Homo sapiens: one gene and its partner. The protein of the gene in region 1 purifies or fractionates together with the protein of each later gene. This does not show direct contact. Each region holds a gene or a part of one and is shown in the gene's direction. Other genes may lie near its edges.

Region 1 (3,764 bases):
TTTGCATCTCCCCTTCTTTGAAGAGAAGCAAACAGGCCAGGCTGTGCGGGGCAGGCCTGAAGTGAGGGGTGGTGTTTGAGCCCGGCTCTGGCTGCCGTCAGTGGCCCACTGAGCTCCTTAGGAAGCCCCAGCCTCCCGGGGCCTGGGACCAGCCTGCATGGAGCCTGAGTGGGCATAGTCCCAAGGAGGTTCCTGGTGGGGTGGCTAGAAGAGGTGGCCTAAGCCGGGAGGGTTAGGATTGGGTACCAACTTCGAGTCTCAGGCATGAACACAGGTTCTGGAGAAATCCAGGACCCAGCTTCTTGGATAAGGCCTGCTGTCTGCTCAGGTCCACCCCTGGACAGTCGGATCTATAGCTGGGGCCCTTGTGCAGCACCCTCCTCCAAGTGTATGCCTGGATGCTATTGGCTCCCCAATTCATTCACTCTAGTCCAGTCCTGTTCCCAACAGCAAAGGCTTTGAGATCATCCCATTCATTCATTCATTGATTTTTTTCTTTTATTCTGAGCCTGGGTGAGACCTAGTAGGACCACAATATTTGTCTGAAGGGGTTCTGACTTGGTTGCATAAAATGACCCCAGAAGGTACTCCAGTCCAGGCTACATAGATCTGATCCATCTTCCCCAAAATAGACCTGGTTAATCCTCCGTGGGCCCTTCTGCCCCCAGGAGTCTGCCAGGAAGTTATGTCTGGTCATCTGATTTATAATAGGAACCAGCTCCATCCCCTCCTCTAGGGCTGGGGCCAAGGTGGTCAGGCTGTGGGGGCCTTAGGAAAATAAACTCAGTCCAGCCAGGTCCTGGCAGCCCTAACCTGCCCTACCCATCCCTAGACAGGCCAGCTCCATGACCTGGCCCAACTGGCGTGGGTGCAGCTGCCCTCAGCCGGAAAACCACTCCTGAAATAACTCCGTCTGAGGTGAATGCCTCAGGGCAGGGTCTGTGCCCTCTCATGGGCTCCCGCCCTAGCCAGGGAGAGCCCAGGGATGTCCTCAGGGAGGCTGAGGAGGACATGCAGAGCCACGTCCTCTCATGACTGAGGCAACTTTGGCCTAGCTCTCAGTGGTGTGGGAAGGAGAAGCTAAGTTGCACACCCGGAGGCCTGGGTTGGAAGTGCTGGATGGCCCCCAGGAAGCTATGGCTTAAGTCATGGTGCAGACCTCTGCCTTACCCTCCAGTGACTCTCAGTCTAGTCAGAAAGACCCTCAGGACCAGGACTGGTGACATAATTTAGCCAGGGTCCCTTCCAAGCACGGGGGCCTGTGCAGCTGCATGAAGTCAGCCCTGCTTAGGAAAGCCACCTTGGTCATCATAGGGTCCACAGGGGTTTTGTCAAGATGCTGAGCCTCCTGCCAGGGTCTGGTGGGTGAGACACATGTGGGTGGATGGGGGCGGGCCTGAAGGAAGGCGGATGCCATTCCTTGGGTCTCTGAACCCCAGCCCCAGCCAAGCCTGCTCTGTCCTCCCTACAGTCATCACGCTGTGCTGTGTCTTCAACTGTCGTGTGCCACGGACCCGGAAGGAGATCGAAGCCCGGTACCTGCAGCGAAAGGCAGCCAAGATGTACACAGACAAGCTGGAGACTGTGCCACCCCTCAATGAGCTCACAGAAGTCCCAGGAGGTGAGTTGGCCCTGGCTTGAGCCCTGCTGCGCCAGCCAGTTCCTCAGTCCTGCTGCCTGGAGTCACCCTGTTCCTCTGCTCCAACCAAAGCAGGTTCAGGGAGGGGCCCCAGCCCTGCCCCTGGAGACCAGAGCACAGAAATTGGTTGGCATGAGGCAAATAGAACGATGAGCCTATTCTCCAGTAGGAAGAAGGAAGAAAAAGGCAGAGTGTAGGAGGTTCTGGGGCTCTTCCCCTCAGGACAGTCAGACCCCAGGACCTTGTCTCACCACTATCACATGGTCTCTTCCCCCTGCCCCACAGAGGATAAGAAGAAGAAGAAGAAGAAGAAGAAGGACAGTGTGGACACAGTGGCCATCAAAGTAGAGGAGGATGAGAAGAATGAGGCCAAGAAGAAGAAAGGAGAGAAATGAAGACATCCTGGGCAGCTTGGGCTGGCGGGCCCTGGAGCTCAAGCCGTGGCCGGGGTCCAGGCATGTTGGACTCTGAGCTCATTTGGGGACCACAGAGGCTGTGGTCAGAGAGGGAAGCTGAGGCCCATGGCCACATCCTCATGGCCCATCAGGGGCAGGAACCAGACAATCTCGTAGGTGTCCTGCCCCCCAGCCTAGGCTTGGCTCCTTTCACCCCATCCACATGGGTACTGTCTCGGCAGAGGTGGTCTGGTGCCACCGTCCCTCTGCAGATACACTGCTCTCCCCACCCAGACCTGCCTGTCTCCCACCCTTTCTGCCAGGGATGGCAGTGGCTGTGAAGGAGTAATGGGATATGGGGTTACTTCAGCCACCCTTTCTGGCACGAAATGGCTGAAGTGCATGGGTCAGGGTGTGAGGCCACACCCAGAGTAGCCATGAGGAGGCAGAGAGGGTCACTGGGGGACACTGTGGCAGCAGGAGGGACTCTGTCTGGCCAGGGAGGAGCCCCAGTGGTGAGAAGACTTCCCCAAGCCTGGCAGGGGATCCAGCTCAAGGGAGTAAGTAGAGGTGGCTTCAGAAATGGAACCCCCAGCCCAGCAGACATCAAGCTCAAGGCAATGGGCTACCCTCATTTCACACGTTGTGATGAAGCTGAGGCTGCTGCCAGGCCCGGCATGAGGCCCCGAGGCTCGAGCTCGGGGCTGGGGGCTGCAGGGCTGGGTCAGGGGTACACAGAGCTAAGGCCAATGGGCTAGAGGGTGCCGGAAAGAGAGCTGGAGTCTGGGCTCCTCTTGGGAATCAGAGTATATTTAAGAAGCCAAGGGGGACCTCGGGCTGTTCTGGTGGCCCCTTCTATGCCCAGCTGTGCTGGGAGGTCCCAGGGCCCTAGAAGATCACAGCAGGGCCTTCTGCCTGCTGACCATAACAGTGCCAGCTTCTTTGCAGCTTCCTCTTCTACCATTTCCCACTACGGGCACCTAAAAGAAGCATCTCTGACCAGAAGACAAAGGCCCAAATAGCACCTGGGGGAGGGAAGATGCACAGAGGCACTTCCAGATGGCATCGAACAGACTAAGGCTCTGAAACCTAGGCCTGAACACTAAGGTCTCGAGACACCAGAGGTTTCTGAGCCAGGAGAGCCTGCTGGAAAAGCAGCCTGCAGAGATTTGTGAATAAAGCTGATTGCCTTCTCAGAGCCAGGCCTAGAAAATGGCCTCCTGAGATGACCCCTCAGGATGCGCTATTCCTGGGGCATTTATGTGGAGGGTGATGCAGCAGTCAGTGACAGATGGCTCAGGCCAGGCCAAAGTCCCCTCCCTGACTCTTCTGCCAGCCTGAATTAGGATGAGATAGAGGGAGAAATGGGAGCCAAGAGGCTGAGGGGCAGCTGCAGTCACCTGGGCCCATCCCGGAGGCAGGCACAGGACTCGGGAGGGACGCTGCCAGCTCTCTGGGTGCTGAGTTCACAAGGCTGCATTCATGATTTTCAATAGACCTGTGATGGTCTGTGCCCAGTGCTGGGGACACAGAAGAGTCAAACCTGGCTCCTGACCTGGACCTGGATCATCACTGTACAGGGAGGAGAGTGATCCAGGCTGATGAGGAAAGCGCATGACATGGGGTCTTAGGAGCAGTGAGGGGCAGAGCCATGGCCAAAGGCCCCGCCATGGAAGCTGAGGACTCTGACACCAGATGGAGGCAGTTGACCGACCTCTGCCCTTGGGGTC
Region 2 (3,766 bases), on another chromosome or scaffold:
CCTGGCTAATTTTTGTATTTTTAGGAGAGACGGGGTTTCACCTTGTTGGCCAGGCTGGTCTCAAACTCCTGACCTCAAGTGATCTGCCCGCCTTGGCCTCCCAAAGTACTGGGATTACAGGTGTGAGCCACTGCACCCAGCTGTTGACCACATTCTTAAATATGAAAACTTAAGGACTGTTATTCTGTAGATATTTTTTCTGATTATTTCCCCATTATTTTTTACAAGTCTGCCACAGGTGTGTATTTAGCAGCTTTACCAACTCCTGGTGGTATTCAGATTGCTGGGAAGACTCCTAATGATGGCTCATATGAACAACACATCTCTCATATGCAGAAGAAGATAAATGACACAATTGCTAAAAACAAAGAGTTATATGAAATCAATCCTCCAGTAAGTAAAACAAACCTACATTGTGAATGTATCAGTTATTGTTTATTAGTATATTTTTAGGTTATCTTATTGAGGACACAAGATTTTTTTTTCACTGTTTAGCTCTCCTTATTACTCATTCTTTCACCTCCCTTTATGTCTTTGCTCAACTGTCTCCTTTTCGGGTAAGCCTACTCTAACGATCCTATTTAAAAATTGTGACTTCATTTTTGCCACTTCCTATGACTTTTCCCTCTTTTATTGTTTTCTATAGCTCTTATCTTTGTGAGTGTGTGTGTGTGTGAGTGTGTGTGTGTGTGTGAGTGTGTGTGTTTTGTTGGTCTTTTGCCTGTTAGTACTGGTAGAATGAAGCTTCATGAGGGCTTTGTTTCTATTGCCTAGAAAAGTTCCTATTGGTGGTAGTCTCTTAGTATTTGTTGAATGATGAAATAAATGGTTTAAAATGTTCTTTGTTAGTAAAAAGAGATTCTTATTGGTGGTAAAAATGTGAAAGAATATAGTTTTTCAGTTACAGTTTCTTTTTTTACAAATTTGCTCCCAGTCATTTCCTTTAATCAGTCTTTTTACCAACTTTGCAATAAGTATCACAATGCTGCCTCCTCTGTGGATGACTGATGGCAAGAGTCTGAATTGAAAGAAAAATGGGTTGGAATTAGAATGAAACTATTTGTTTTTATGAGTCTCTGATAATGAAAGACTTTCACAAAAGGAAAGTATAACATTCACACGTATACATATGTAACAAACCTGCACATTGTGCACATGTACCCTAAAACTTAAAGTATAATTAAAAAAATAAAAAAAGAAAGTATAACATTATTGCTTTTATTATTTTAAACGTCTTATCTAATTTTGGCTGGTCTTCTGGAACAGTGTGTCTGGATTGTTGCGTCACATGTATAGCTTTCATCATATTATTCTAGCATAGTTGTTAATTTGGGAGGAATTTTAAGGTTATGACCTACAGCTGCACTATTCATTATTCACTGTGGTAGCCGCTGGCCACATGTGACTTTTGAGGACTTGTGACTAGTCTGAATTGAAATGTGTAGTAAGTATAAAATATACACTGGATTTTAAAGATTTACTGTGAAAAAGTAGTGTAAAATATGAATATTTTTGTATTGATTTTGTGTCAAAAATTTAATATTTTGGATATACTGAATGAAATAAAATGTTTTATTAAAATGGATTTTATCTGTTTCTTTTTACTTTATTATGTATGTGGCTTGCTTTATATTTCTATTGAACAATACTGACTTAGGGCTTCTTTAAAATGAATGCAAATGTTGATGTGTTAACATATTCATATTTGAAAAATAGACTTTGTAAAAGTTCTCTGTGCACCACTCTACTGACTGCTTATTTTTATAGTACATTATTTTTATTTGGTAGTTATATTTTGATATTTGAACATCTGTTTATAGTATGCCACTTGGGAAAAATGATTTGTAAAGCTTTGTGTTAGGGTTTCATATATTCTTCATTTATTATTTCTAATGATATGAGCTGAACTTTTTTACTTACTTAATAGTGTTTCTCACCTCTGTAAATCCATCCTGACCTCTAACAGGAAGAATGGACTCTTCCTCCATTGTGTACTTGTTGTACCTGTATGTACTTGTATAGAAACTGTTACATATTATTGTACTTAGTTTTTATATATCTGTCTTCCTTTACTATAATGTAAGCCCTTTGGAGACAGGGATGTGTTTAAATAAGACTATGAATTAAGTTACTTCATCCATTCAGTACTTATTGAGCTGCTACTATGTGTCATACAGTTTACATTTGGAAGGAGGGAGTAAATCTATTATGATTTTAAAAATTTTAACATATATGAATTTCATGTGTTGAGGATGACTGTATTTTCACAACAGTACTCATCAGTTTATGCATCTTCTAATATGTCTTTCCTTATTGTAGATACTGACTACATTATAGTCTTTTAGCATAATCTCTCAGCATTTTTTTTGACAGAGTCAGTGTACAAGGTTGATTACCAGGCCACTATACACATTACAGTGTTGTGTTATGTCCACCCTGAATATGTAGATCAGAGTGTTCCTTCTCTTAGGATGATAGCCCTCACTGAAATAAATGCTGCTGTTTAAATTTTTTGTCAATACATTAAAAAATGTTTCTAATACAAAGGTGTAGTACCACTTAAGCTTTATGGAGATAATCAAAGGTATCAAAATAAGATGCACATCTCTCAGAATAACAGTACTAGTGATGAAATTTCAGTATGAATCTAGAACATATTAAATACCAGACAGTTATATTTGTTAAGTCTGTGGCATTGTGAACAAAGGCATAACAGAATTTAAAACTATTGTAAAATTATAAAAAGTAGTGTGGTATCTAGTGGGAATAACGTTGCACTGTGTGTCAAAAGACTGACCTAGACTGGCTCTACACTTGCTAGTTTTCCAAATTTAGGCAGACTACTAATTTACTTCTGAATTACAGCTCTTTTCCATTTTGTAGTTATTATAATGTTAACTTTATAGAGGGCAGATTAATTTGGAGTACAAATAAGATAAATTGATGTGAAAGTGCTCCATAGATCATTACATTATGAAATTGTGCAGTGGTAGTCTTTTATCTAAGGTGCATACTACCAATGAACATTTAAAACTATATATTTTTGAAAAATTTTATGTACAATTTCCTTGTTTATTAAAAAGACAATTCTGTTGCATCAGCAATAGGCTATGGCTTTTGCTTTTGCGTTCACGTATTCATATTCTTCCAGCATTCCTTGTGGCCGACAGACACTTAGAACCCCTAGTGATCTTTGGCTATGTAACAGCAAAAAGCTCACTAAGCCATACAGTATTGCACCATACACTGACCTTAAAAAGATCATTATTGTAAGTACCAATGTTTATTTAGCTTAATAAATTGAATAGCAAATATGTGCATAGTATAAGTATATATGTATTCATACTCATACATTGATCATATTTCACATTTTGCTATATGGAGCTTTGAAAGTGGATAAGAAAATATATAAAAGATTAGAATTCTTTCTAGGAACATAAGTCTTTAAATTTTTAAGGCCTATTAGGACTTTTATAATGCTGAATAGAAAATATGCACACACAGCAGTACTGGATTTCAGAGCTGTAAGGACTGCCAATTCCATACACATTGTAGTGTCCTGTGTGTACACTAGATGTCAGTTTTATCTTGTTATGTCTGTGACAGTTATATATATTTTTCTGATTCGTGTATCATTAAGGCTGCCATATCTGCTATAAAAGTTTAGTTTTAAAGGTTATACTTAAGTACGGACTTCACTGAGTATATTTTACAGGCTTTTTCTCCACAGGTAGGTGTCTACTAATATAAAGATGTAAAATTTAAA

Evidence for each region.
Region 2: the proteins of TMIE (region 1) and C2CD5 purify together in Homo sapiens (affinity purification with mass spectrometry; one large-scale study listed by BioGRID and IntAct). This does not show direct contact.

Annotation. Positions count from the first base shown.
Region 1 is NC_000003.12:46,707,655-46,711,418, forward strand, and holds the end of TMIE (transmembrane inner ear expressed protein isoform 1 precursor), read left to right. Parts: intron 1-1,471; coding exon 1,472-1,621; intron 1,622-1,924; coding exon 1,925-2,034; 3' UTR 2,035-3,232; downstream 3,233-3,764. UniProt on the Homo sapiens protein: Auxiliary subunit of the mechanotransducer (MET) non-specific cation channel complex located at the tips of stereocilia of cochlear hair cells and that mediates sensory transduction in the auditory system.
Region 2 is NC_000012.12:22,474,940-22,478,705, reverse strand, and holds part of C2CD5 (C2 domain-containing protein 5), read left to right. Parts: intron 1-228; coding exon 229-393; intron 394-3,766. UniProt on the Homo sapiens protein: Required for insulin-stimulated glucose transport and glucose transporter SLC2A4/GLUT4 translocation from intracellular glucose storage vesicle (GSV) to the plasma membrane (PM) in adipocytes.